Homo sapiens: one gene and its partners. The protein of the gene in region 2 purifies or fractionates together with the protein of the main gene of each other region. This does not show direct contact. Each region holds a gene or a part of one and is shown on either strand. Other genes may lie near its edges. The genes, in order: CLGN, OGFOD3, EIF2AK3 and ATP2C1.

Evidence for each region.
Region 1: the proteins of OGFOD3 (region 2) and CLGN purify together in Homo sapiens (affinity purification with mass spectrometry; 3 studies listed by BioGRID and IntAct, with this or other methods). This does not show direct contact.
Region 3: the proteins of OGFOD3 (region 2) and EIF2AK3 purify together in Homo sapiens (affinity purification with mass spectrometry; 3 studies listed by BioGRID and IntAct, with this or other methods). This does not show direct contact.
Region 4: the proteins of OGFOD3 (region 2) and ATP2C1 purify together in Homo sapiens (affinity purification with mass spectrometry; 3 studies listed by BioGRID and IntAct, with this or other methods). This does not show direct contact.

What each region holds. Positions count from the first base shown.
Region 1 is NC_000004.12:140,424,328-140,432,177, reverse strand, and holds the start of CLGN (calmegin precursor), read left to right. Parts: upstream 1-4,529; 5' UTR 4,530-4,641; intron 4,642-5,390; exon of another isoform or gene 5,391-5,474; intron 5,475-7,850. UniProt on the Homo sapiens protein: Functions during spermatogenesis as a chaperone for a range of client proteins that are important for sperm adhesion onto the egg zona pellucida and for subsequent penetration of the zona pellucida.
Region 2 is NC_000017.11:82,388,220-82,394,911, reverse strand, and holds the end of OGFOD3 (2-oxoglutarate and iron-dependent oxygenase domain-containing protein 3), read left to right. Parts: intron 1-368; coding exon of another isoform or gene 369-541; exon of another isoform or gene 542-581; intron 582-2,377; coding exon 2,378-2,514; 3' UTR 2,515-5,702; downstream 5,703-6,692.
Region 3 is NC_000002.12:88,568,465-88,575,464, forward strand, and holds part of EIF2AK3 (eukaryotic translation initiation factor 2-alpha kinase 3 isoform 1 precursor), read right to left. Parts: exon of another isoform or gene 6,983-7,000; coding exon 6,202-6,982; exon of another isoform or gene 6,050-6,201; intron 2,578-6,049; coding exon 2,410-2,577; intron 1-2,409. UniProt on the Homo sapiens protein: Metabolic-stress sensing protein kinase that phosphorylates the alpha subunit of eukaryotic translation initiation factor 2 (EIF2S1/eIF-2-alpha) in response to various stress, such as unfolded protein response (UPR).
Region 4 is NC_000003.12:130,994,582-131,002,396, forward strand, and holds part of ATP2C1 (calcium-transporting ATPase type 2C member 1), read left to right. Parts: intron 1-1,461; coding exon 1,462-1,530; intron 1,531-2,098; coding exon 2,099-2,215; intron 2,216-3,024; coding exon 3,025-3,172; intron 3,173-3,712; coding exon 3,713-3,808; intron 3,809-4,936; coding exon 4,937-5,078; intron 5,079-6,638; coding exon 6,639-6,769; 3' UTR 6,770-7,815. UniProt on the Homo sapiens protein: ATP-driven pump that supplies the Golgi apparatus with Ca(2+) and Mn(2+) ions, both essential cofactors for processing and trafficking of newly synthesized proteins in the secretory pathway.

The DNA of each region.
Region 1 (7,850 bases), on a different chromosome or scaffold from region 2:
CTCTCCCAGTTGCTTTCACAGGCTGGTGTTGAGTGTCTGCAGCTTTTCCTGGTGCACAGCGCAAGCTGTCAGTGGATCTACCATTCTGGGGTCTGGAGGATGGTGGCCCTCTTCTGACAGTTCCACTAGGTGGTGCCCCACAAGGACTCTGTGTGGGGGGCTCTGACCCCACATTTCCCTTCAGCACTGCCCTAGCAGAGCTTCTCCATGAGACCCCCGCCCCTGCAGCAAACTTCCACCTGGGCATCCAGGCGTTTCCATACATCCTATGAAATCTAGGTAGAGGTTCCTAAACCTTAATTCTCAACTTCTGGGTACCCACAGGCTCACCACCTGGAAGCTGCCAAGGCTTGGGGCTTCCACCCTCTGAAGCAGCAGCCTGAGCTGTACGTTGACCCCTTTTAGCCATGGCTGGAGCAGCTGGAACACAGAGTACCAAGTCCCTAGGCTGCACAGAGCAGAGGAGCCCTGGGCCCAGCCCACAAAACTGTCTTTTCCTCCTAGGTCTCTGGACCTGTGATGAGAGTGGCTGACATGAAGACCTCTGACATGCCGTGGAGACATTTTCCCATTGTCGTGTGGATTAACATTTGGCTTCTTGTTACTTATGAAAATTTCTGCAGTGGAGATTTTCATTTCTATCACATTGTCAGGCTGCAAATTTTCAAACCTTTTATTTTCTGTTTCCCTTTTAAAACGGAGTGCCTCTAATAGCACCCAAGTCACCTCTTGAGTGCTTTGCTGCTTAGAAATTTTTTACACCATATATCCTAAATCATCTCCCTCAAGTTCAAAGTTCCACAAATATCTAAGACGGGGCAAAATGCAGCCAGTCTCTTTTTTTATATATGCTGTGTGGTATGGATTGAAAAATGTACTTATTACATGTGAATATTCAATTGTACCACCACAATTTGTTGAAAAGACTAGGCTTTCTCTACCAACTGCATGTGTACCTATGTTGAAAACCAGTTCCCCACACTGTCTTATTCTGTTTTGTGTTGCTATAACAGAACACCTGGGAATGGGTAATTTATAAAGAAAAGAGATTTATTTAACTCACAGTCTGGCTAGCTGGGAAGTTCAAGGACATGGCTCTGGCTTGTGGTGAGGCTTTTGTGCTAGGCCAAAAGATGGCAGAGAAGGTCAAAGGGGAAGCAGACGCATGCAAAGAGGGAAAACCTGAGGGGCACCCAGCTTTATAACAACCCATTCTCATGGGAATGAATCCAGTCTCGTCAGAGCAAGAACTCACTCACTACTGCAATGGCATCAAGCCACCTACGAGGACAGGACCTTCATGACCCAAATACCTCCCATTAGGCCCCACTTTCCAGCACTGCCACACTGGGGACCAAATTTCAACATGAGTTTTGGTTGGGACAAACCAACCATATCCAGGCCATAATACATACACATGTAAGTCTATATAGAATCTATTCTGTTCCATTGATTTGTTTGCCTTGATACTAATACTCTTTGATAACTCTTTGATAACTATAGCTGTATATCATTCTATAAATCCTAAAGTCGGGTAGTGTTTCTGAGGGGGGTTATCTTGAGACACAAGAAAAAAACTCAGCATGGGCTCATTCTGCCAACTATATAGTTTAACCAGACGAATTCTGGGAAAAACAATGATGACTATTGTCATTACTATTATTTACTATTGTTTGATATTTTTGTTAAAGTAATAAGGAAAAAAACCTCAGAAAATAAGTATAAATATAAGAAAGAAAAGATCATTTTCTGCCATAGACATAATTATACATCTTGAAAATAAAAGTCAACCCACTGGAAATACTTGTGGAATACTTTGTTTCCTTTTCTCTATTTTCTGCACCATTAAAAAGCACATTCCTAAACATATGAAAATATACAAACATTTTTAAAGTATTATTTGAATTATCTAGGTTCTGAGTCCACTCATTGTATTTGAGTTAAAACTTCATTCTGCATAGCTCTTTAATCCTGATAATCGAGGCATTTCCTATATTCTGCATTTTTCAAGTGGCAAGGTGTTGTGGAAAGGGCACAGGCTTTGAATCCTCACTCTGCATCTTAAGATCTGTGTGAATAAGTTATGTAACTGATCTGGGTCTATTTCCTCATAAGTAAAATAAGGATGATACCTGTGGGTCAATTGCATATAGCAACTTGCACATAGTAGAACATTAATAAAACACAGCTCTGATTTTGATTACAAAACAGGCTTCCAACAGGACATCACTCTGTTCCATCAAGGAGCATGAACCTTTCTGCTTTTTTTTTTTTTTTTTTTTTTTTTTTTTTTTGACACAATGTCTCACTCTGCCATCCAAGCTGGAGTGCAGTGGCACTATCTGGGCTCACTGCAACCTCTGCCTCCTGGGCTCATCCCACCTCAGCTTCCTCCCACCTCAGCTTCCCAGGTAGCTAGGACTACAGGCATGCACCACCATGCCCAGTTAAATTTTTTGTATTTTTTTGTAGAGATGGGGTTTCATCATGTTTCCCAGGCTGGTCTCAGGCAGCTCGGCTCAAGTGATCTACCTGCCTCAGCCTCTCAAAGAGCTGGGATTACATGCATGAGCCACCATGCCAGGTCACCTTTCCTGCTTTTTATGTTTTTCTAGATTTCTGATTACTCTAGTCCCTCCAATCTTGATTACATTGCCTTGGTCTCTTCCCAAATCTCTCTTCAACTTTGATGTGTCAGAACACTTCACGACTCTACCATTCAGCATTACATTCTGGGACTCCTCCGCTTGTATTATTAAACACTACATCACTCTCAAAAGCCATACCCCTTGTCTTATTTGCAGATTATTCTTTCTCCTCTGACATTATCACATTGTATTATTCTGATGAAAAGTTGCCTATTAAACAAATTATAAATATTATATTCAATCATCCTTTCAATAAGTGGCAAATAATTTTGGAGATATGTTAAGGCCTTAAATTTCAAGGTTAGAGATTAGATTTCATGCTGTGGGTAATGAAGGGTCATTGGAAACTATTGAATGAGCTGAGGATTAAACTACGAAGTGTAGGTGGGAGGCTCTGAAGGGGGGCAACTAGTTAGGTAACTCTGAACAACAGTTTCTAAAGTAGTGAGAATCTAAACTAGAGAAATGGCACAGGGACTGGAGGGGGTGAGGACCTCTTTTAGATGATTTTATGGAGTTAGAGTTTAATTTATGGAGGCAGTGAATGTAGCAGCCAAAGAGTAAAAAAATGTTCTCAAGGTTTTGAGTACTATGTGACCAAGAAGATACTACTAAATCTTGCAAAAATTCACTATTCTTACATTTTTAGTTTTCAGCTTCCTCACTGCAAACTTTGAATGGATCCTTTAAAAAATCCCTCTCTAGCAGTTCAAGTGTATTTGTTATGGGCCACAGAAGTATGTTGAATAATAGAAGTCAGAAGGACGGAAGAAAGAAATAAAGGGTATAATATTGTTACAAAGTATCTCAAACAAAATGTCTTTTTAACCAGTAAATTTTAACACTATCCAAACACTCTCCCAGAGATGACAAAGTCAAAAGTTTAGAAATGCTGGTCTTAATTAGTGAAGCAATGTGAAAAAACTCAGTGATCTTGACCCCTAGCCAATAATGATACGTTGTGCACGGAATGCCACCAAACCCTTAAGATTGAAACTCTTCAACAAGGGTCTTAGACTCACAAGTCAATTAAATGTTGTTAATTAATCTTCCAATAAAATTAAATTGTTATACCAAATTCAAAGTCAAGATTTACTATAAAATATTAAGTAGTAAAATTAATATTGATCCAATATATAAAAGGCAAAGCAGCTTGTGATTGCATAATCATAGCATAAACTACGTTTATGCTAAGATTTATTTCAATGTGTTTGAAACTACAGGCTCTGAGAGAGACAGGCCTGATTTACATCCCGTTTCCACTGTTTACATGTTGTGTAACTTCGAGCAAGTTGCCATCAGTTTCATCACCTGGGTTGCCACGAAGGTTAAACAATGAATGTAAGCCCCTTAGAGCACAATGAACACAATAAATGTTAGCAGCTCTTATTAATAGTGTTGTTCGAGAGAAAAAGAACATATTGTTTTATATACAATGTATTTATTAACACTTAACGCATCTGTATTTGTCATATACACACACCAGACAGGAAAGCTCCTTATTAATCACCATGACTGCAGATCTGTTAACATCTAGAACTCTGGAGAAAACCTAGAGCCCTAATCTTGCTGCACTTATTACTGGACGTTGTTCATAAATATGATTTACATAAAATTCAGGACCCAATCATTGCGCAACAGGAGGTAGCACGGTCTGCAGAGAGGGCGGGAGCTCAGAGGAGGAAAAGTCTTCGGACTTGCAGGGGGAATTCCTCCTGGGCTAACCCGGGAGCGGGGTCCAGGCCACAACCGGCCGGCGGCGGCACAGGCTCCATGTGCGGCTCCCCCTGGAGGCGGTTGAGCCCCTCGGAGCAGGAGCGCGTAGCACACACCTCGGGCCGCCACCGCCTCCCGCCCGCCACCGCACGCGCACGCGCGGTTAGTAGTCGCTGCTGCGCGGCCGCCGGCGGGACTGGTCTGAAGAGACGCGGGGACCAAGTGGCAACGACTTGGACATCTGAGCTGTCACTGCCGAAAACAGGCCGCAAGAGAGGTGCGTGAGCAGCAGGCCGCGTTCCCGCTGTCCCGCTGCCCTTTGCGCGCAGATTGGGGTGAGGAAGCGGAGTCGTTGCTGCTTCCCCCAGGCACCCCGTTACTTTGCCGCCAGAGGGCTGAACCGGTCGGGGCCAAGTGAGGGTGGATGTTGAGTCTGGCGATGGGGCTGCAGCGAGCTAGGGTCTTGACTGGGCTCTGGCGGCCCCGTGGGTGGACGCAGGAGGTGGTGCCACCTGGGACCCTTTGTGTCTTCAGCACCGCCGCATCCACCTGCTGCGCCCGGGCTGGGGCGGACGAGCACGGGGACAGCTAGGTGCCTAGCCCGGCCGGCCTCCCCTGCGGGCTTGAGGAGCCACCGGGAGCCGAGGCCGTTATTCCAGCGGTTGCCATTGCAGCCCCGTTCCACGCTTGAGCCCGGGGCGCTCTCCCAATGGTTGTAGAGGGGGCCCGGGGCGCGTCTGGGCGCTGCTCACTCTGCTGACTGCTCCTTACAGAAACCCAAACGAGATCAAAATAGGCTCGGCTGTCTCAGTCTCCACCTATGTGGAAGCGAAGGGACCCCACTTCACGGCGGTGGGGCCAGGGACTGTTGGCCGCTCCCTCGATACCCGCGCAGAGCCCATTGTGCGCCGCCGGGGGGCGGGCGAAAGGGCTGGGTTGAATCCAGAGAGGCCCTAATTACTAGACTCATTATCGCCCCAGGCCTGTTTACCATCAATCAGACACTTTCGCTGATTTTATTTATAGCATCTGCCCAAGCAACAAAGAGGAGGTGTTTGCTTGGGAGTTAAAAGCAAATGGCAACCAAAGCTCAGGACTGGGAGAGAAAAGGTAAATAACGTGGCCACAGGAAGAAGTCTCAAATTAGAAAAGAGTTCATTAACGTATAAACTTTTTGTTGCTTAAAAGCAGGCAAAATCCCGATCTCATCTGATGATTTTGCTTGTTTTACAAATGTCGACATCACTCGAGGTAGCCCTCCTTTGGGTCATTGTAAGTTTGACCTGTTTTCAGTTTGGAGTTTTGCCTTCACGTCTTATTGGTTTGATCTTCCAGTAACATTTAGATCTCATCTCCAAATCCTCAGAACAAGATATTCTGTACTCTCTGTCTTAGCTAGTTGATAAGGTTAATTATTGTGTGTAAATGATGTAAGTATGTTGATGCATTTGTCTAGAAATTGAAGTGTTGTAAGTTAGCTGTAGTACTTTTTAAGTACCTAATAAATACTGGTGTTTTTAAATAGAAAACTAGAATTATGAACTTTAAAGAATCTTTGGATTGTCTAGTTCACGTCACAAATGAGAAAACAGGCCCACAGCAGTTTTTATCACTTGTCTTTTTAATAATAAAACTAGAAACTTGGTGCGATTGTGCCATGTTGGGTGTACTTTTTATTATATCATTCTACATTGCATTCCTGAAGCCACATGACAACTAAAACTTTAAGTAATAGGTGATTGTCAAACACCACTTCTGGAATATACCAGTGTTGGTCGGATCCTCAGTCAGCCATTAAAACTGAATAACAGCAGAAAGGCATCGCAGTTATAAGAAATAGCATGTACAAAAAGTGTGTTAAATAGGTGTGTTGAGAGTGAAAGAAGGCCCGGCGCGGTGGCTCACGCTTGTAATCCCAGCACTTTGGGAGGCCGAGGCGGGCGGATCACCTGAGGTTAGGAGTTGGAGACCAGCCTGACCAATATGGTGAAACCCCGTCTCTACTAAAAATACAAAAATTAGCCGGGCATAGTGGCGCGCGCCTATAATCCCAGCTACTCGGGAGGCTGAGACAGGAGAATCGCTTGAACCAAGGAGGCAGAGGTTGCAGTGAGCCGAGATTGTGCCACTGCACTCCAGCCTGGGTGACAGAGCAAGACTCCATCTCAAAAAAAAAAAAAAAAAAAAAAAAGGAATTACAAAAATGTGTCACAGAAACATAAAGTGACTATAGTGTTGGAAAAATGGCAGCTGTAGACTTGTTCAATGCAGTGTTGCCAGAAACCTTCAATTTGTGAAAAATGCAATAAATCAACGTGCAGTAAAATGAGGTATGCCTGTATGTACACACACACACACACACACACACACACACACACACACACCCTATTGATTCTGCTTCTCTGATGAACTCTGACTAATAAAATGACTCTCCTCCAAGTAATGATTCAGGGATTCTGCAACTTCCTACCTTGGAATTTTGCCGTTTTCAACCATGACCTTCAAAATTGCTTGCATCAAACCAGAAGGGGAAAGATCATAAAGAATTATAATTCATAATTATAGGAAGTTTTTATGGGCAAGGGCTGACAATGGCATACAGGTCTTCTATTTACATTCTGTTGGCTGGAACCAGGTAATGGTCACATCTAGTGCCAAGGAAATTACCCTTGTGATCAGCCAGCAACTTCTCCCACACTATACAACACATATTGCATATCCTGTGATTGTCTTTTCTTTGTGTGCCTTACTTACCTTTGATGTGACAGTGAGCATTACTTCAATACCAGTACATGAGCTGCACTTTATAATTTGTAATTTGGGGGTGGTAGTGGAGATCCAGTAGGGTTTTTAGGAGATATTGGTGTAATTATTTAAAGTAGACCAGACTACTTGATCTAGATTTCAAAGATTGGGAAGAATGGTATCTCATTCATGGATAAAGTTACTTGTGCTTCAATTTGTTATTGAACTACCACAGAAGCAGTGCAGAGAACATACATGAGATCAAAGATACGTGTTGGTGCAGAAGGATGTAGTTCTTCAGTGCCTCCCTTCTTATGAAGGCACAACTGATATTTAGTGATCTCAGCAAGCCTCATGGAGTGAGGAATACATAAGAAGCTTGGAACCCTGGGCATGCTACCTTTTAATTTATAAGGAGGGAAGAGGGTGACATTAGCACTAAATGTTCTACCCTATACCATATAAACAAATTCTTGCTGTACTAAAATTATATAACTTAAACAACCATACAGATCAATAAAGAAATAGATAACACCACAAGCCAACTAAACATAATAAACATATGGACAACACTGTACCCAACAATAGCAGAACACACATTTTTCTTAACTGCACATAGAACATTCTCCAGGATAGACCATATTAGACCACAAAACAAGTCTTAATGAATTTTAAAAGATTGAAATCATACAAAGTAAGTTTTCTGAACACAAAGGAAAGGAACTAGAAATCAATAGTAGA
Region 2 (6,692 bases):
TGTGTGATGATATTCGGGGGTGTCACTGACCAGGGATGCTCGGCCGAGCCTTGGTGTCCAGGGTTTTTACTGGGGGGCTGGTGGTGCAGGCACGGCTGGCCTCTGTCCCCAGCCCCTCTGGATGCTGAGCTGCTGCTCTGTGGCCCACGTCCCACCATAAGTGACACTGTCAGTGTGGACCATCTGGTGTGGCCCTAGGTCCCTGGTAAACAGAGGTTCTCCTATCAGGCAGGATGTTCTGAGGGCTCAGAGGTCCCCCCTGGGAGCCGGGGCAAAGGCCAGGCCTCTCTCTGGAGGGTGTAGGGTGTGCACCGCCCAGGCCCCTGGAGTCAACCCTTTACCACACAATCCCTGTCCTGTGTCCCCAGGATGTTTTTGTTTCCGGATGATGTCTTGTGGGTTCCAAGAAGTTAATGGACCGAGAGCCAGTGAAGCTGCTGGTGCGAAGGCTGGAGTCAGGTGTCCTCCGGGGACTCACCACCCGCCCGAGAGGGGAGAGACACATGCGATTCTGGAAGCTGAGAGCATTGCTTATTGTTGATTCCTTGGTTGCCGTGCTGAGTCCTGCTTTAAGGAAGCAGGTGATAATCTAATAGTCATTTACTAAAGAAAGTGCATCTTAGGCCGGGCGTGGTGGCTCACGCCTGTAATCCCAGCACTTTGGGAGGCCAAGACGGGCGGGTCATGAGGTCAGGAGATCGAGACCATCCTGGCTAACACGGTGAAACTACATCTCTACTAAAAGTACAAAAAAATTAGCTGGGCGTGGTGGCGGGCGCCTGTAGTCCCAGCTACTAGGGAGGCTGAGGCAGGAGAACGGCGTGAACCCAGGAGGCAGAGCTTGCAGTGAGCCAAGATCATGCCGCTGCAGTCCAGCCTGGGCAACAGAGCGAGACTGTCTAAAAAAAAAAAAAAAAAAAAAGTCCTTTTCTGGCCCCGTATTGATCTCATCTCCGTCTGAGCCTTCAGTAGTGTGGATGGTGGGTGGTTTCCTGCCTCCCACAGCTCACGAGGCTCAGCTGTCCTCCATCCTTCCCCCTGTCCTTTGGTGCCTCTGTTTGCAAGATGTGCAGAAACACCAGAGGGCCAGAGGAGACCCTCCTTTTACTGAATGCTGGCAGCCTCCTGAGAACCACGTCTGCCAGCAGTAGAGAGCAGAGAGTGTGGACGAGCATGGGCGACTGAGGTCCCAAATGGCGCGAGCCGCTGGGCCCTCCTGCTTGTGCCGATGTCTCAGCCTCGATTGAAGCTGGAAGAAACCAAGGACAATGTGTCCTTTAAAAGTGTAAGGTTAGAAGGTGCCCTGACTCCAGCCGACCTGGAAAAGGACGTGTCCTGCATATCTGGAGGTGGCCCACACGGTCCGGGAAAGATCGGCTGCCTTGCCTGCATCCCAGGGCGCTTCCCGGCCTCCATTAAGAGGTGACCATTGCATCCACGTGATTTCTTTTGCTCCACTATTTCCAGGCACAGTGCAACTGACTCCCTCTTGAAGCTAGAATGCCCTGCACACCCGGGATGGACTTCTCTCCCCTTTCAAAGATCGAGTGAAGTTTGCAAATGTGAAAGGAAGGAATTGCATTTCCAGTGGTAACCTTTGAAGGGGAATGAAATTGTCACAGGACGTCAGGAGCCACGTGGGGGAGCCCGGTGTCCTCTGAGTCTCAACGCCCCTTGCTTCCCACTTGGTGACGGTCGATGGCTGTGTCCAGCGGTGAACGCTTTACCACAGGACTCTACGGTGGGGTAGGCAGCGCCACTTCAATGTGAAGACAAATGAACTGGCGTCTCTTGAGATAGGCCCCTGCCTCCAGGACCTCTCAGGCCCCGGGCCCTGGTTACTGCCGTGGAAGCTGCCTGTTCAGACGTCATCTCTATCACCCCTTGAAGGGAGACAGAGAGGTGTTTGCGAGTTGGATGTTTTATCTTGTCTTTCCTGATTCTTTGTTAGAACACCCCCAGGGCTTGGTTTTTGTTCTCAACCTGTGATTAGAAATAAGATCCTAAAGTGTCAGATCTGGAAGGCCCATGAGAGCTGAGGAGATCAAATGCCCGGAGCTCGGGAGATCAGATGACCTGGGGTGTCTGGAGCCAGTGGTGGCCTCATCTGCAGCATCTTCCTCTGTCCTGCCCACCACAGAGTCCCTGCTGGCCCCGGGGGGCCCCTCCTCCGCCACAGGGCCCCTGAGCATTGCTGCGTTTGTTTCTCCAGCTCCTCCTTCCTGCAGAAGCAGTTCCCAGAGGGGCAATTTCTCCAGCCTGCCTGGTTGGTTGTGTTGATTGGTTATAGTTGCTCTTTCAGGTGACCGCAGACCCTCTGAAGGCTGTGGCCGTGGGTGTGGCTCTATGGCCACCTCTCTCTCTTCTCCTCTCCCAGGTCGCGTCTCCTTCTTCACCTCGGGGTCCGAGAACCTACACCGCGTGGAGAAGGTCCACTGGGGCACCCGTTACGCCATCACCATCGCCTTCAGCTGCAACCCCGACCATGGCATCGAGGACCCAGCGTTCCCGTAGCCAGCAGCCGGGCCAAGGTAACTTCAGGAGGGCCCGTGTGGAGGCAGCCGCGCCAGTCGTGCACCCACCCCCACGTCCACCCGCTCCTGTTGCACAGAGTGCCTTAGGAATTCTCTGATTTTGATTTGCTGACGTGTTAATCTTTTCATCTGTGAGTAAATGAAGGGAACCAGCTTTTCACTTCTCCAGCATCATGTGTGCTTGGGCTGTAGGCCTGGGAGCCTGAGGTGGAGGCCAGGAAAGGGACCCAGCAGGACGGGGCACAAGTCCCCATCTGTGAATGGACGGGACTCATCCACCCAGGTTCAGCAACCCCCCGGGACTCGTCCAGGTTCAGCAACCCCCCGGCCCATCAAAGACTGGCTAAAGCATCAGCCATAAATGGGGACAAACGTGGGGCCAGCAGCTTCTGTTCGGGGTCTCGGCATCAGCAAACCGCAGCAGCTTTGGAGAAGGGTCCGTGAGTGGCGGCTCTGGAGGCAGCAACGGGGTCCTTTGGGGTGGGTGGGAGTTCTGCTGGATTCAGGTGGAGGTGAACATCTGCCGTTCCCACAGCCCTGCGTGCACCCCCAATGCTGCTGGCCCACAAATCACCGTGGGCCACGGCCCCACCACACCAGGCTTGGCCCTGTCAGCGGCCAGCATCCCAAGGGCCAGGGTCCGAGTGTCCTCACCAAGGAGGCTCTTGGCGTCGCTGTGCCGGCTCCCATGGGCCTTCTGCTGGGTCGAGGGTAGGTCTCCTCCTCCCCCTTTGCCCTGGCATTAAACTGATGGTCAGGCTGGGCGCGGTGGCTCACACCTGTAATCTCAGCACTGCGGGAGGCCGAGGCAGGAGGATCACTTGAGGTCAGGAGTTCAAGACCAGCCTGGCCAACATGGCGAAACCCTGTCTCTACTAAAAACACAAAAACAAATTAATCCCAGCTACTGGGGAGGCTGAGGCAGGAGAATCGCTTGAACCCAGGGGGCAGAAGTTGCAGTGAGCCGAGATCGTGCCACTACACTCCAGCCTGGGTGACAGAGTGAGACTCCATCTTAAAAATATAAAAATAAAGTGGTGGTCAGAGGAGCCCCGAATAGACCAGTTGTGGAGAGGCCTGGGTGGGGTGGCTGGCAGGGAGGGCAGGCCAAGCCCAGTTTCTGCCCACAGTCACCTCGAGGTGACTGTCCAGGGCTTTGGGCACCTTCCCGGGAGGGGGACGGCCGCCCACCCTGAGTGGTGTTGGAAGCTGGGCTCTCCTGGATGCCCTGACCCAGCTGCCTGGGGAGAGCCCTGGGCCCCTCCTCCCTCAGCACCTCCTCCCTCAGCCCCTCCTGCCTCGGTCCCTCCTCCCTTAGCCTGTCTGGCATAGATCCATGTTCCCTAGCCCCTGGCACAGGTGCCTCTGACTGGAGGAGGCCCCACCTGTGGCCCGGGAGCTGCTCTGGGGGTTGATAAAGGGCAGCATTATTGGGTCCTGGGAAGGAGCGGGCGTGAGGCCAGCTGAGGCATGGTGACCCCTGGGAAGGAGCGGGCGTGAGGCCAGCTGAGGCATGGTGACCCCTGGGAAGGAGCGGGCGTGAGGCCAGCTGAGGCATGGTGACCCCTGGGAAGGAGCGGGCGTGAGGCCAGCTGAGGCATGGTGACCCCTGGGAAGGAGCGGGCGTGAGGCCAGCTGAGGCATGGTGACCCCTGGGTACGGGGGACTTGGGGGCCGCACCTTGGTTTGCCCAGGGCCCCTCCTGCACCACGGGCCACATGCGGAGGACGGCGTGGGATAGGCTCCCTGGGTCCACAGCTTCTGCCCGTGTATGGGGAACCCTCCTTGGTCAGGGCTGCAGGCTCTGGGCAGATGGGGCAGGAACCCTGAGGCTCCCGCGCCCTCCCATGGCCTCTGATGTGGGACACTGGAGCGAGGCACGATTCTGAAGGACTCCATGGATCTGGGAGGATGAGGCCCACCTCCGGTTGGTGGCCAAAGCCGTCCTTGCGGGGCCGGCTGCTTCACGGACACTCTCCGGGTCGGGCTGGTGGGCCCCATCGTGGGTGGGAAGTCGCCTGAGCCTGGGCCGCCCTTGAGCTTCTCCCAGTCTTGACTTTCCAGAGGGTCCGTGGCTGTGGTCATGGTCGGGGCAGGTGGAAAATGCTGCATGGAAACCTGATCCTGTCACCTTGGAGTAAATGATGATGTCGCCGGCTTCTCGCCACGTCTAAAGGATAAATGCATTTGAAGAAAGTGGGTGTTGGGTTTGTTATGGGTTAAAGTGCTTTTGAAATAAGTAAATTATTAGTTTGATTTTCATTCTTGGCTACTTACACTATTCATGATAATCACAGAGATACTTGGACAAAGAAATATATTTGGGCAAAAGCAAGAATTTCCTTCTTTTTTTTTTTGAGACGGAGTCTAACTCTGTCGCCCAGGCTGGAGTGCAGTGGCGCAATCTCGGCTCACTGCAAGGTCCACCTCCTGGGTTCCCACCATTCTCCTGCCTCAACCTCCCGAGTAGCTGGGACTACAGGCGCCCGCCACCATGCCCGGCTAATTTTTTTTGTATTTTTAGTAGAGATGGGATTTCACCGTGTTAGCCAGAATGAAGAATTTCCTTCTGAAGTGGGAACATATGGCTCATGCTGGTAATCCCAGCACTTTGGGAGGCCAAGGTAGGAAGATCACTTGAGCCCAGGAGTTGGAGACCCATCTGTGCAACATAGTGAGACGCTGTCTGTACAAGAAACTTTTAAAAAATGTAGCTGGGCGTGGCAGTGTGCTCCTGTGGTCCCAGCTACTCGGAGCTGAGGCAGGACGACTGCTTGAGCCCAGGAGGTCGAGGCTACAGTGAGCTGTGACGGCTCCACTGCATTCCAGCCTGGGAGACAGCAAGATACTGTCTCAAAAAAAAATTTATCATTGAAGCCTGGGCATTTTAAAAAAATAAAAAGGTGGGAAAATACGTGGGCACAGCAGTGAATCCTCACACCCTGGGCTTTGCCCAAGAAGTGCTCGTGAACCTGATGAAAGTGTCGGGTGTGGCCGACGTGAGGCTGTTCCAGGAGCCACGAGGGGTGATTGGTTCCGCTAGAAGGTTCCAGGGAGGAACTGGAGTCTCAGGTGTGTCCTCTGATGAGTGATCTATTTTTAAGTAAAAGTGTTTCATTAAAGTCAAAGATGATTATTCCTTTCAAAATAAAGAATCTAGGAGGGCGAGTCCTGCTGTCGGGAAGGGAGATGTTTCCTGCTTCCGTCCGTGCTCCTGACCTGGCGGTGGCCCTGTCCCTGCTACCTGCGTGGACAGAGTCTCCAACACGCGGCAGCCACCAGAGCCAGGCCCGAGCGCACAGCCGTGCATTGCGAAAGCAAAGCCGAAACACGAGGTCGCCGTATGTCAGCCTGGGGAGTACAGAGCCCCAAGGCTGGGTTTCTTGAGTTGTGTGGAAAGCTCCGTGTACATGTCCCGAGTTCTCACGAACGAAGGGGAGGAAGCCACGAAAGCAGAGGCCACGACGGTGAAGTGGGTGGGGGGGTTCCGGGGAGGGGTTCTGGGGAGGGTTCCGGGGAGGGCTCCGGGGAGGGGCTCCGGGGAGGGGTTCCGGGGAGGGTTCCGGGGAGGGGTTCCGGGGAGGGTTCCCGGAGGTCTCCGGCTTTCTGCAGGGCCGAGGCCGGGAGGGCCTTAGTGCCGTGTGGGTGTGTGGTCGGGGCCTGTGAGGCCACAGGGTGAGCAAGGAAAGCCGTCCATTTTTATGTATGGGAGACTCGTTTTCAAAGGAAGGGAAACGGGCGTGACCCTCCCATCATTGGTCCCATCCCGGAAGACTCGTCACCATGGCCAGCCTGGAGCTGACTCTGTGTGGTGTGTGGGTCACTGCCAGGAACCCACGTGGCAGCCACCTCTCACCCCACCATGGTCACAGCCCTGGTGTGCAGCGTGGTGGCCTCTGCTCCCTCCACCTTCTCTCTTGATGGGGACCCTGGCCCGGCTCTGCCCAGCCCTGCTGTGCTTATCACCGAGATGGGAGCCAAGGGCCTGAGACACCAGCGGTGTGTGCCACGCCCACTCGCCACCTGGCACGTCTCCCAGGTCAGCGCTTGCTGCTGGACAGCTCTGGGCTGGGGAGCTGGAGGACCCGCGGCCAGAGGGTGGCCCCGTGAGCTCAGGGGTGGCTCAGGCATCAGGAAGGCTCCGTCCACACTGGACGC
Region 3 (7,000 bases), on a different chromosome or scaffold from region 2:
GTCCTTAGCAGTAGAAATTATTAATTTATTAAATCTCAACCTTTAAATATACACCTTTTTAATAATCTGACAAAATGGAAAATATTCAGAAAAACATTTATGCTCCATACCAAAGTACAATAGTTGTCTCCAAGTTTGATACCTTGGATATGCTAATAACCCTGATCCAATCACTAAATAGTGTATGTATTAAAACGACAGTATGTACCCCATAAATATGTACAATTATGAGTCAATTTAAAAAACAAACTAATTTTAAGAAGTTGAGACCTGCTGATGTAAGCATAGATTAGCTTGTGAGTATCATTAGCATTTGTGCAATTATTTGAGTTACAATATGCTCTAGCTGCTCTTTTCATAGAACACCATTTTGACTTGAAAGAATAATTGGTAGACAAACTACAGTTATTGAGACTTGGATACTTGACAGAGAGTTTTTTTTTCGAGATGGAGTCTTGCTCTGTCACCCAGGCTGAAGTGCAGTGGTGCAATCTCGGCTCACTGCAACCTCTGCCTCCTAAGTTCAAGCAATTCTTGTGCCTCAGCCTCCTGGGTAGCTGGGACTACAGGCATGCGTTACTATGCCCAGCTAATTTTTGTGTTTTTACAAGAGACGGGGTTTCACCATGTTGGCCATGCTGGTCTCGAACTCCTGGCCTCAGGTAATCTGCCTGCCTCGGCCTCCCAAAGTGCTGGGATTATAGGTGTGAGCCACTGCGACTGGCCGAGGGACACTTTCTTAAAGATGAACAATGAGACCGGGCATGGTAGCTCACGCCTGTGATCCCAGCACTTTGGGAGGCTGAGGTTCAAGGATGGCTTGCGGCCAGAAGTTCAAAACTAGTCTGGGTAACACAGCAAGACCCCATCTCAAAAAAAAAAACAAACAACATTTTTTTTTTAAAGAGAAAAAAAGATGAACAATGTGAGAATGGCATTTCAAGGAAAACTAACAGTATTTGTTGCCAATGTTAAAAGTTGAGCTTTTAAGTGAAAATTAAAATTTTGGAAGATTTCAGTCTACCAGTGGGAATTTGATAGCCTCCTAATATGTACATAAAGCCTTTTCTGGTGAGATTGGTGGTTGTATTAACCAAAGTGACTTTTTATATTACATAATGAACTGTGATGACTTTTGGAATAGTTGCCAAACTTAGGGAACCAATAGTTTCCAAATGACTAATGCACAATGTAAAGTCAAGCATGGGTAAAAAGATCCATTCAAAGTACAAAATGGACCAAGGGATGTTAAAAGTACCAGAGTACAAAATATTCATGAATGGTTTTAGATTCCACAGTGTAAATGACTTCTAAGAAACTATCATTTACTAAGTTTTGATATACTATCAAAGACAAAATATCTACAATTACTTGAAATGAAATATTGCTCTTTTTTCCAACTACATATCTGTGCGAGGCCAGATTTCCTCATGTACTTCAGCCAAAATAACATACTGCAACAGATTGAACACAAAAGCAGATAGAAGAATGTAGCACTTTTATAAGTTAGCTTTAAAGAGACTGGCAAAAATGTAAACAAATGTCACTCTAATTTTTTTTTTTTGCAGGGGAATTGGTGCCTGTAATTTTTTTTTGTTTTAGAAAATACTTATTTTTCATAAAAATATCTTAAGATGTGATAGGTTTCATTGTTATTTAGTTGATTTAATAAAGTTTTATAAATTTCTCTTTTAACTTCTAATATAACAAATATCGATAGATAAAATTTTGTTAAGAAAACCTTTTGGGTTCTCAGTTATTTCTACAAGTGTAAGTATGTACTGAGCCCAAAACGTCCGAGACCCGCTGCTCTAAGCATAGAGAAGCTTGTGAAGATCATTTGCCTGGTGGTGGCTGAGCATGCTCGCCTGATGCTTCCAGGATGCCCTGCTCCCCCAGCTCTTCCAGTCCCTGCCCTGATTACAGTGCTTTTCCTGTGAAGGCCAAGCAGCCCACAAGGCAACACCTGCCGGCCTGTGTGCCTCTATTTCCTACTGTGGTACATGCTGGAAGTTGCCTATGAGTGACCACAAAGGGCAGCTCAGTATAGTACCTCTGGGTCTAGCTGGCTCTGAAAACAGTTCCAACACAGTCTACACAAGGCAAACGAGTTAAGTTTGGGAGGGTGGCATTCAAAGTCTCTTTCCAAATTCCTGGTTGCTGTCAGGTGCTTGTTCAGGGGGTGAGTGCATTTTATGTGTTGTATTTTTCTTAATCCAGCCCCAATTCAGGTTGTAGAAACTACATCTTAGCTGTGTCACTATTCCACTACTGGAACACTACTGCCAGTTTTCATAATTTTCAGACTTACTGGGTTTTAGATTACTGGGTATTTTAATGAAAACATGAGAAGAGATTCATCAGGTACATCTGCTGCTGTGCTAGTAAGTAAAGGTCTGAAAAACTCACCTGCTCTGGGCTCATATACAGTTTGGTCCCTACTTGTCCTGTGTGTCTGGCATAAGCTGGCATTGGGGTCAGAACCGTCTGCTCTTCCTCATCCTGGTCCATTGCAGTCACTAACCCAAAGTCTCCAACCTTGACCACATCATCCATTGTAAAGAATATGTTGGATGGCTGGAAAGAATACAACAGACAAAAGTACAGTGGGTGTGCATGGAGGCGAAAAAGTAAAGAGAATTATTTAAAAGACTACAAAGAAAAAATACAACAAACTAGATATTTTCAAGCATATTTCTTTTTAAAATGGGCTAACAGGAAAATAGTGACAATTTTTCTGTGCCAGACAAGTACTGCTAGTAAAGAAAAGGGAAGGGTAGCAAAGAGTGCTAGTATTTATTGAACATCTACTTAAACCCTTTGAGGTGCACATTCCCTAGGGATCATGGTACTTAATCCTCAATCTTATTATTCTATATATTCTTCCCAGGCAAGCATCTCTACACTTATGACTTAAAGCCTTAATAATTATAACTAATAATAACTAGTTCATAAATAGAACTTGCAATGTGCTAGGCACTGTTCAAAGCAGTTTACTACTACTAACTCATGTACTACAACCCCATTAGATGAGTACTAACCCCATTTTACAGACATAGAAAGTGAGGCCCAGAAGTTAAACAAATTGCCCAAGGTTACCCAACTAGCAAGTGGTGAAGCAGGGATTCAGACCTGAGCAGTCTGGCTCTATGAGGAAAGGACCTTGTGATCCACTGCCACGTGCCCAGATTTCAGTCCAGTTCTTGCTCTATGGTAGCTAATTACTATTTGGTGAATGAATGAAACAGACTGATCTTTTGGTTTGCGTCTGAGGGGGATATAGATTATCAGAAGGGATAAGAGCTCTTCACTACTACTCTATGCTGCCTCTCGTAAAACCTCTATGTTCTCAAGACTATATCTACTCCCAGATCTCTGCCCTGAGTTCTAAACTCATATTACACTGTTTATTGAATACATCTAACCAGAGGTCTCATGGGCTTCTCAAACCCAAGGTGCCCTACATGAAATACATCACCTCTCCCTCAGAGTCTACTCTACTCTGCGGGTAATATGACCACCATTCATAGCCCTTGAAATGAGGAAAAAGGAAGCCATTTAGCTCATGAAATTGAATTTCATCATGTTTCAAATACTGCCAGAAAATAACATTGCATTCCCAAACTCTAAAATACCATTAAACGATTTTGACTTGGAAGCATGAAGTTATTGTGTATAAGATCTATGGTAATAATCTGCAGCTCTCCAATAAATAACTTTGTACCAGAGGCAATAATAGACTATCCTGCATTAAATGTCATCTTTCTTCCCAACTCCCAACATCTGATGGCAGTTGTTATTTACTGAACCCTATAATAGACAAGCTTTTTGGCTCTCCAGTATCTATCTCCCTGTGCTTCCAGCAGAAGTATCTTGACTTTACTTTGGGAACTTCCTTCTTGCTGACTGTGCAGCAAAACCCCACGGTTAGTGTGGAAGGCATCCATGCTCTAAAAGTTGCTTACGCCAATCCATGGAATCCCATTGCCTGGCTAGGGATTGTTGAGGGATGGGTAGGTGTCCTTGGTTTAAGTAGAATAAAATTTCTGATAGTGGGAAAAAGCAATACTTTTCTCTCCACCCTCTACCCCACCAACTCCAAAAGACTTAAATAGAAACAAGAAATGGGGAGGACAGAAACCAGGTTCTGGCTAAATCACTTGATCTCAGCTAAAGCTTTACCTGAATTCTCAACAGTTTAGCCATGTGGGCCAACAGATTTCCTTTTCTGGTTAAGTCAGTATAAACACTTTTGAGTGCAAAGAAAATAAAATTCAAAATAAATGGTATGACCATCTAGAACATTCAGGCATTGTACTGAGACTATAACAGGTAAAAGAAACAGATATGGTTCATACCCCATAGAAACCACAGAATAAATAATCCAGGTGTGATGAGAATAATGAAGAAGGACCAGGTTTCTGTCAGAACAGTGTATATCAAGAGGAACTGAGAAAAGTTCAGAGTGGAGAAAATAGAAGACTAGAAGTTAGTCTGAAGAGGCAGGAGCCAAAGTCCTGAAGACAAAAATGTGACCAAAATATAACAGGGGGAGAGGGCCTAGAAGGTTTAACATTGAGCTCAAAGATTTAGGTCAGAACGTAGCAAAATGTACAGCTTTTTCACCCAGGAACAAAAATCTTGGCTTTTTTTTTTTTTTTGGTTGGGGGTGGCGCACTAGAAATCTTTAAAAGGAATTGTCTTCTATTTAGAAAGGAATAAAACTTTCTGATTTCTAGAAAAACTAACAGGAATATTAACTTTCTTCTTGCAATTTTTCTGGTGCATAGACAATTACAGAAAAATCTTTAGACAACATTGTAGCATTAAATGGATATTTACCAATATCTCATTTACATTATAAAATTAGCAGAAGAATATTCATTATTAGTGAAAACATGATTCATTGTCTTTCAAGTTGGCATTTGTGTGTACAGCAAGTGTTAAGTACAAGAAGAATGTGTATTTCAGCTAGCTGTTTCCCACCTAGTGATAAGCGTTTACTATATTCAAACCTAACTGCTAGTATTCTCTCAAATTAGGGGTGTGTGGTCTCCTGTAAACTGTCTTCTCCAATCCAACCAAATAATTCATCTCTGAACTTTTCATTCAGTGCAGAACAATTCTTGGCAATCAGTTTGGGCCCACGTCAAAATCACTGAAGCATAATGATTTATATGACTAAATAACAATTATATTAAAAAATAAGAATTATTTCTAATTCCTATTCTTGTTACCCTAAAACTCTTAAAATATACCCAAGAATTTGAAAACCTACTGCTGATTTTAGAAGAAAATAACTTGTGTCCAAATAGCTACTTTTGTGCCTGAAACAAGTCTGTTTTAAGTCTGAAAAGACTTAAAATGGATCCACATCTATCAAGACTTTAAGCTACTTTCATCAGAAAAGTATTTATACATTCACTCCACATCTACTGGTGATGGCTAAGAGTATATGGAATGTGGGAAATTAGTTAAATAAAAGTTCCATGTACTTATTTTTAGAAACACTACTACGGAAATGTCATGTTTTAGTAAGACTCTTTAATAATTTTGCATATTATATTACTGCAAAATTCACTACTGAATATATTGAAAATAGAATCCAAGGTTTTAGAGCTGTAAACAGTCATCTGTTAACTATTTGCTACCTTTCCCCATTCGGCTTCTTACCCCTTCCCCCAAAGTCTAAACAGTTCAGAAAAAGAAGCAAAAGTGTGGAGATTTGCCCCAATTCAAGCTGGCTAATGAAGGAACCCATGTCTCTCCTTCCATTCGGATCCCTTTCACCATGCTGCTTCAGAGCCCTGGAGGTATTGGTGTCAGGGTTACTCAAAACCATAGAAAAACAAAAACAAACAAACAAACAAAAAAACAGGCTATATCTGCTCATGGTGGATTTTACCTAAAGATTCTTTTTTCTTTTTTTTCCCTCACCTGGACTACTGAGAATACCTTTTACAGTAAAATGAACACAAACACATTACTGAAGACAATGAATGCATGGTTTGCCTAAAGTTTTCAGACATAAGACTTCTTATTCTTGCAGCAGGCCCCTTCGAGGCTACTTTCTCAGACCTCTGCTCTCAGATGCTTTTACTCTCCCCAACTCTTAAGGATCCTTCAGAGTACTGCAAGTACTGCTCTGAATCACAAAACGTCAGATTGAAACCCCAAGGGTGATGCTCCACAAATACAGACCTTGAGGTCCCTGTGCATCAGTCCTTTACTGTGAAGAAACTCCACTGCCTCTGCGATCTGCAGGAAGATGTGCAGACACACGCTCCTCTCTCTCTCCTCTATGGTACATCGTCCATTCATCCAGTCTTTGAGGTTTTCTTTTCTGCACAGCTGCATTTGAATGTAAAGATACACCTTTGGTGAACTGGGCTGGAGTTTTTCTGTGGTGTTTTTAGTGAGATCTAAACTTAAAGTGGTTGGTCTTGGAGGAGAAATAGACAATGTAGCTTCAGAAGAAGATTTGCTACTGGTGGGCTTGAAAGCAGTTAGTTTATTAGCACAATGGTTGCCAATATGCAATCGATTAGTTTTCGGCTCTTCTTTACTGGAAGCATTATCACAGCCAGAATCTTCAAATACTATTGAAGAGGAGGTTCTCTCCCTTGACCTTACATAAGGAGAAGCTTCAGAAGGACAAAGTTCAAAGGAGTGCCCCTCATCATTGCCATCCATAGTCCCATCTTCCACATCACAGTCTGTAAGGCAACTGTCCTGGAGGTTGTATGCTGCATCCACTGACTCACTGATGTCCTCATGGTCCATTCCTGAGAATTCCAGTGGTGAGAACTGGCTCTCAGATGAACTTGTCTGGTCACAGGAAATCCCTACTGAAAAAGACCTGCTTCTTTGTGGTGAAGGAGCTATGATTTCAATATGTTCTTTTGTAGCGAAAGGATCCATTCTGCGTATTTTAACTGATGGTGCATCCATTGGGCTAGGAGAGCTGAGTGGCCAGTCTGTGCTAAAAGTGGGAGAAATA
Region 4 (7,815 bases), on a different chromosome or scaffold from region 2:
TAAGACTCCAGTGTAATACATGGTGGTGTCAGTTTCACAGTGTTCAGGTGGGGATCATGTGAATCCCATTTATTTATTTATTTATTTTTTTGGTAGCTACCTGTTGGATGACCTGAGTTTAGTGATAAATTCCAATTATATGTTCCAGGCTGCTTTATTACTCTGTTTTGGCCTACAGGGAAACATTTGGGAGCTTAGGACTCACAGTATTTGCCAAGCTTTTGCAAGGATATGAGTTTTTTCTTTCCATTATTATAATTATATAGAAATCTTAGAAGAAATGGGGAGTTGATTAAAAAGCATAGATTTTCCTGGATTCAGCTAAATGAATGAGATAATTTATATGAATCCTTGTAAACCATGTTCTTCATTTAATTCCTCTGCAACATGTGATCTACTTGATGTGCAGGAGCAACACGTAGCTTAAATTCTATAATTCCTATATATCTCATTGCCATTTGATTCCTGACATGCATTAGTTTAAACCTTTACTCTGCATTTTGTACCACTAAGAAAAATGAGCTTAGAGGAAGGTGAAGAAGATAATCATGGCTGGGCAGGGTACCTCATGCCTGTAATGCCAGCACTTTGGGAGGCTGAGGTGGATGGATCACTTGAGCCCAGGAGTTCGAAACCAGCCTAGGCAACATGTCAAAACCCATCTCTCCAAACAATACAAAAAAAATAGCTGGGAGTGGTGATGTGAGCCTGTGGTCTCAGCTACTCTAGAGGCTGAGCTGGAGGATTGCTTGAGCCAAGAAGGTCGAGGCTGCAGGTAAGTCAAGGTTGTGCCACTGCGCTCCAGCCTGGGAAGCAGGGCAAGACCCTGTCTCAAAAAAAAAAAAAAAAGATAATCATTTTATGTATTATGAATGTGAAGTATTTTCTCTTGTGTGAAGAGACAATGCATGATTTTAATGTTGAAGTATCTTCTTCAGAATAAGAATTTTAATATTGTGACAAATTAGTTCAGGTAGAGCTTAGGCTTGACTTTAATTCTTTGCTAAAATAAATGTTTCCATATTGATACATGTGTTGTATTAGTTGGAATTTTATTTTATTTATTTGTTTGTTTGTTTGAGTCAGTCTCACTTTGTTGCCAAGGCTGGAGTGCAGTGGTGTGATCTTGGCTCACTGCAACCTCCGCCTCCCGGGTTTAAGCGATTCTCCTGCCTCAGCCTCCCGAGTAGCTGGGATTACAGGCATGCGCCACCACACCCGGCTAATTTTTGTATTTTTAGTAGAGACGGAGTTTCGCTGCACCATGGTGGCCAGGCTGGTCCGAACTCGTGACCCCAGGTGATCTGCCAGTTTCGGCCTCCCAGTGTGCTGGGATTACAGGCATGAGCCACAGTGCCCGGTTGGAAATTTATTTTCAAAATTAGCTCTACAGTGTTTTAGTATAGATACATTTTTGTATGATAATATTTTCTCACTTCATCTTTATTTTTTAAATTTCAGGTCTGCAATCGAAGAGGGTAAAGGGATTTATAATAACATTAAAAATTTCGTTAGATTCCAGCTGAGCACGTAAGTTTGCAAGAAATTTGTCACCATGGGTCTTCTGGATAAATTATATGAAAAGTAGAACTTAAGCAGAATGCCTAGAAACTTCTCTGCCTTATATTTGTGAGCATTGTTCATATGTCAGTTTTCCAAAAAGAAAATTTATTGTATTCTGAAATTTTAAATGGCATGATAAATAGGTTGTAAATGTAACAGTTAGATGTCTGTATCATCAAAATGTATAAATCTTTGTGATTTATTTAATAGCTCACATCTCATTGTTTCCTCTTGGTATCTTTTTCCAAAAGTAGAAGGGGTATTGTGTAGTCAAAGAACAGTTACCAAAATATTGTTGAAACTATCATGCAGATGTAAAAATTCTTTATTTGTTCCTGTTGTCTAAACATCTTGAAAATCCTTTGTTAAAATACTCTTAGCTTTAAAATGTCCACGTGACTGAAGAATAGTTTACTTGAAACAGTCTTCCTTTAAAAGCATAGTAGTAAGAGATTTTTAAATGCTAAAAAAGTGGTATCATAGAATCAACAGATTTACTCTACTGATATTTTTAAATGACTCTCTTTTTCAACAGGAGTATAGCAGCATTAACTTTAATCTCATTGGCTACATTAATGAACTTTCCTAATCCTCTCAATGCCATGCAGATTTTGTGGATCAATATTATTATGGATGGACCCCCAGCTCAGAGGTACGAGTTTTTTAATTGCATGAGCTGGAAAGACAAGGAATGTGTACTACCCTGATAATTAAGTTTTAAAACTTGATTTATGGACAGTGTTGGAAAACTTTGCAGCAAATGTTTTAACATTTATGTTATAAATTGTGTGATGTGTGTATTTTATTAATTCTTTTTGAGTGTGCATGCAGTGTAGATCTGAGCCTTTCCACTGTTAGATGCCTAGCCTAAGGTTGAGAATAGATCAGGAATAGGTGCTATCCCTGTCCTCAGGAAGTAAGTAAGCCTTTTATTTCTAAGAAATGGGTATAATGGAGAAATTTCTGGGTTCAGTTTTATTATCTAGGTTCTACTGTCAGTTTTAGAGACTTTGGGAAAGTATTAGAGGACCTGAGTGTCATAACTTTTTTAAAAAATTTAATAATAATGGGGTAGTTGAGTGATAGATGTCATTTGGCCACTCCAGCAAATCATCCCAGTTAAAACCTCTTTATATGAAAGATATTTCAAAATTCAGTCGGTAGGTCATGTATTTCACACCGTATTTGAAATAGGTAAACTTACATGTAAATGAATTGGATGGTTTTTTGAAAGTTGATTATCTATCCCCTATCAAATTGTGCCAAACAAATAAAGAGGAGAGAAAAAGTGACAAAATCAGTGGTTATTTTTGCGTAATCAGCCAGCGTTTTATGATGCAACATTTTGTTTCTATAAGAAAGCATTTAGTTTGCCGAATAATTGAGGTTAGTGAGGTTGTGAAAGTAACAAATCCAGACCTTAAAACTTGAAAGTAATTTATTTTTCTGTTTGTTTTTAAGCCTTGGAGTAGAACCAGTGGATAAAGATGTCATTCGTAAACCTCCTCGCAACTGGAAAGACAGCATTTTGACTAAAAACTTGATACTTAAAATACTTGTTTCATCAATAATCATTGTTTGTGGGACTTTGTTTGTCTTCTGGCGTGAGGTATATTCACTGGCCAAGCTGCTATATTAACATGAATTCTGTATATCTGATAGGATTCTTAGTTATTTTGATGGGTTACCCAGAAGGCTGGGAAGTTAAGGGAGCTCTTTTAGTGAAAAATATAAGAACATTTTAAAAGAGTTTGATTTCCATCTTTATGGATAAATAAAATTATTGATTCATGTATTAGAATAAATCTGCAGAGAAGTATCAGTTACAATAAAAATACATGAAAATTTAGAGAGAAGTTGGAAAATCTGAGTCTTAAAATCATAGAGCCACTTTATTATTTTTAAATAATAACAGTATTTTAATATCTAATACATAGTTCATGAGAAGTTTTTTTTTTACTTTTTATTATGTAGATTACAGCTATTCACTAGGTGATTTATAGGAAATTTAGGTAGCTTTTATGTTTCATGTGTTAGGCTAAAGTTATTTCTTCCTAATGGAAAGAAAATGTTTATATTTTTTAAAAAGCAGCGATTTATCCATTAAATTCAGCCACTGAAAAGTAATTTTGTTATTGCCTCTTGACAGCTACGAGACAATGTGATTACACCTCGAGACACAACAATGACCTTCACATGCTTTGTGTTTTTTGACATGTTCAATGCACTAAGTTCCAGATCCCAGGTATGTTTAGGTGAACTTAGTTGATTGACTTGATTGACTCACTTGAGTAGAGTGCTTTCTAATAAGTAGGCAAAGATTATGGGTTTTTAGCTTTGCTTAATTTTGTAGCCACAGATTGCAGCCCCAGACACAGCCTTCTTATAAACATGTGCCATTGGTCACAATGAGGATGGGGCATTTGTGGGAGGTAAGCTTTATGTCTGACTAGAACATAAAAGTATTAATAATTCACAGGTGTTGTCATCTGCGTTTAGCTGGCTATAGCTATAAGATAGATCGTGGTTAACATTATTTGAGCATAGAACAAACCTCATAGTTTCTGTTGAGATTTTATTAGTCTCATTTTAAAAGACAGTATTGCTAGGAGTATAAGAGCAGTTATGTGCCTATTTTTTTTCCCATCACTCCTGTCACTGTGTCAAAGCTTAGGACATTCTAATTTTGCTTTTCTTCCCTTGTTGTATCTTAAGGTGTGACTGCTGCTTCTTGGTCTAAGTGTTTTGATAGAAAATAATGGGCTAGAGCTTTATGGTACTTTTTTAGAGCATATTGTCCTTAAAAACTAGTTTCATTTGAGGCATGACTATTCATTTCAGCTTTAAAGCACTTTATGAATCCTTAACTATATTACCATTTGCCATGCTGGAACTTCTGAGTACAGCGAATTCTCACTAATTGACCAATTTTTGAAGAAGCTGTAATATTTATTTTTTTATGAAAAGTGGTTTTACTTTTTCAGTACACACACAATTAGGTCCATTCTCCAAGAAAGGATTTTAGATTATCTACCTTAGTGAATGTATAGAAATGATTTAGCAAAATACAAATAAAGTTTCTTGATGTTTGGGATGTTAAAAGGTTTCTTTTCTTTCTATGGTCTAAATTATATAGTGTCACTTTTTAAGCAAGCCTTTTCTTGATAAATAAAATAAAAGCTACTTTAATATTTACTTTTATTCCATCTGAATTATTCCAAAACAGTAGTAAAATTTAAGATATTTCATAGAATTGACATTGCACAATTCAGTGATAAAGTGACACTGCTTGTTAAAAATTAGAAGTGAATATAATAAAGAAGTTATTTCTGTGACCAAGGAGTAATAAATGAACTCTCTGCTCTGCCAACAGACCAAGTCTGTGTTTGAGATTGGACTCTGCAGTAATAGAATGTTTTGCTATGCAGTTCTTGGATCCATCATGGGACAATTACTAGTTATTTACTTTCCTCCGCTTCAGAAGGTTTTTCAGACTGAGAGCCTAAGCATACTGGGTAAAGAAAACGTTATCTTTATCATTTATGTATTTTAGATAAATCATATTTTCTAATGTGTTTGTTTTAATTTTAAAATTCTTTTAAAATAGCAAAATAAGTAACTCACTTGATTTGAAAAAGGAGTCTATTTTTTCACTTGGGGAAGCTCAGGGGAATTACTCTCCTAACTCCAGGGTTTTGGTTTTTGCTCTTTTATAGGTTATCAATTGTTATAAAAATCATAATACGTGATTCTCAAATATAGCAAATCAAAACCTGCTCTAGAGTATAGTTTATAACTTTTTATGTACTATGCCATCTTGTATGAAGAGAAAACTAGACTTAATCTCCCTGAAAACCAAGTTGCTCTCTTCTTTAAAGTTAGAATTTTCAGTAAACTAATAATTTCATTATTCTTTCTTGTTTGTACATTCTAATTTCACAAAATGTCAGTCTGACCAAATAGCAGAATGTTTTATAAAGACTATTTGGAAATTACACATTTTTCTTACATTACCATTTATTAAATGTATAATACAGTGCATTTAAAAATTAGTTTTCCTGTGTAGGTGTGAGGAATGATATATTTGACAGTAATGCTATCCTTTATTGAGTTCTCAATTTGGGTATTTATGAAAAGGAGTTATACAGTTTCACTGTATTTTTTCTTGTAAGTTAAAATTTACCTTAAAATTGAACTAGTTGAATTTCAGTATTTTAATTCCATATTCACATTTCTTCCTCTTTTTAAAAAAATGGCATTTTAAGGAAACATCTGCAATTTTCCAAGCAGTAAATAAGAATTGAGATAGTGTGGATAGTATTGTAAAGACAAGTCTTCTATGCTTTGAAATAGAACATATTAATGTCAAATTTTTAATCTTCAGATAGGCATTGTCATTCAAATTGTCTACTACTGTTGATACAGTACTTTTTTAAAGGGCTGTGTGATCTATGAAATAAACTCCTTTTGTTGGTGATACTGTTAAAGGCTAGCCACATAAGGTTTCAGGGAAAGTGGTCAGAGGACTTGGGTTCTAATTCTGGCTGCTGCCTTTCCTAGTTATGTGACTTTGGATAAGTCACTTAATATCTTTTTTTCTTTTCTTATTTTTAACTGAGGGTGATTGTGCCTGCCTTATGGAATAGTTGTGAAACAATGTGTTTGAAAGCTGTGGTGGCCAGGCGCCATGCCTCACGCCAGTAATCCCAATACTTCGGGAGGCTGAGGCAGGCAGATCACTTGAGGTCAGGAGTTCAAGACCAGCCTGTCCAAAATGGTGAAACCCCCTCTCTACTAAAAATACGAACATTAGCCAGGTATGATGGCACATGCCTGTAATCCCAGCCACTTGGGAGGCTGAGGCAGGCAAATGGCTTGAACCCAGGAGGCGGAGGTTGCAGTGAGCTGAGATCATGCCACTGCATTCCAGCCTGGGTGACAGAGCAAGACTTCATCTCAGAAAAAAAAAAAAAAAAAAAAAAAGTTGTGTTAAAATGCTAGAAAAATGTAAGCTATTAAGCTTTGCAACTGTAAGTTTCAAAGAAATGTAAAACCCAACTTATTTTCTCTTGCAGATCTGTTGTTTCTTTTGGGTCTCACCTCATCAGTGTGCATAGTGGCAGAAATTATAAAGAAGGTTGAAAGGAGCAGGGAAAAGATCCAGAAGCATGTTAGTTCGACATCATCATCTTTTCTTGAAGTATGATGCATATTGCATTATTTTATTTGCAAACTAGGAATTGCAGTCTGAGGATCATTTAGAAGGGCAAGTTCAAGAGGATATGAAGATTTGAGAACTTTTTAACTATTCATTGACTAAAAATGAACATTAATGTTAAAGACTTAAGACTTTAACCTGCTGGCAGTCCCAAATGAAATTATGCAACTTTGATATCATATTCCTTGATTTAAATTGGCTTTTGTGATTGAGTGAAACTTTATAAAGCATATGGTCAGTTATTTAATTAAAAAGGCAAAACCTGAACCACCTTCTGCACTTAAAGAAGTCTAACAGTACAAATACACTATCTATCTTAGATAGATATATTTTTTTTTATTTTTAAATATTGTACTATTTATGGTGGTGGGGCTTTCTTACTAATACACAAATAAATTTAATCATTTCAAAGGCATTCTATTTGGTTTAGAAGTTGATTCCCAGGAGTGCCATATTTCAGCTACTGTATTTCCTTTTTCTTGTAATGTAAGCAGCTCAGATACCATGTGCTATCATTTTTGTATCAAGTTTTTTGCACAGGATGTGACCACTGTCAGATCACTGTTCTTTTCTTTCTTTTTGTGATTGAAAAGCCTATACTACAATTTGAAGTAAATTTTTGTTTTTCTTAGTAAGTGTAAATGGTTGCTTTATTTTTATTTTAAAAAGGTATGTCTTTGGTTTGGCAGAATTCATGCAGGGCTATCAAGTGGTGTTCTAGGGTAACAGTGTCCATAATTAACGCTTAGTCATAGAGTCAAAAACATTTAAGACTGATTGGGTTGAAGTTTATAATAAATTATATTAACATGTCTTCCTTTTTGAGGTAAAGATATATACTTTGTCAAATATCATTTTGTCATCCTCTAAATATAAATCCAAATACCTCAGCTAAGTAATTCTATTTTATTATTTTTACTGTTATGTATGTTTTTAATCATATTTCTTAGGAAGTATAGGCTACTGGACTTAGAATAAAAAGTCCCCAAACCCAAACAAATGGTTTATGAACCAGAGTATATGTGGAAGATTCT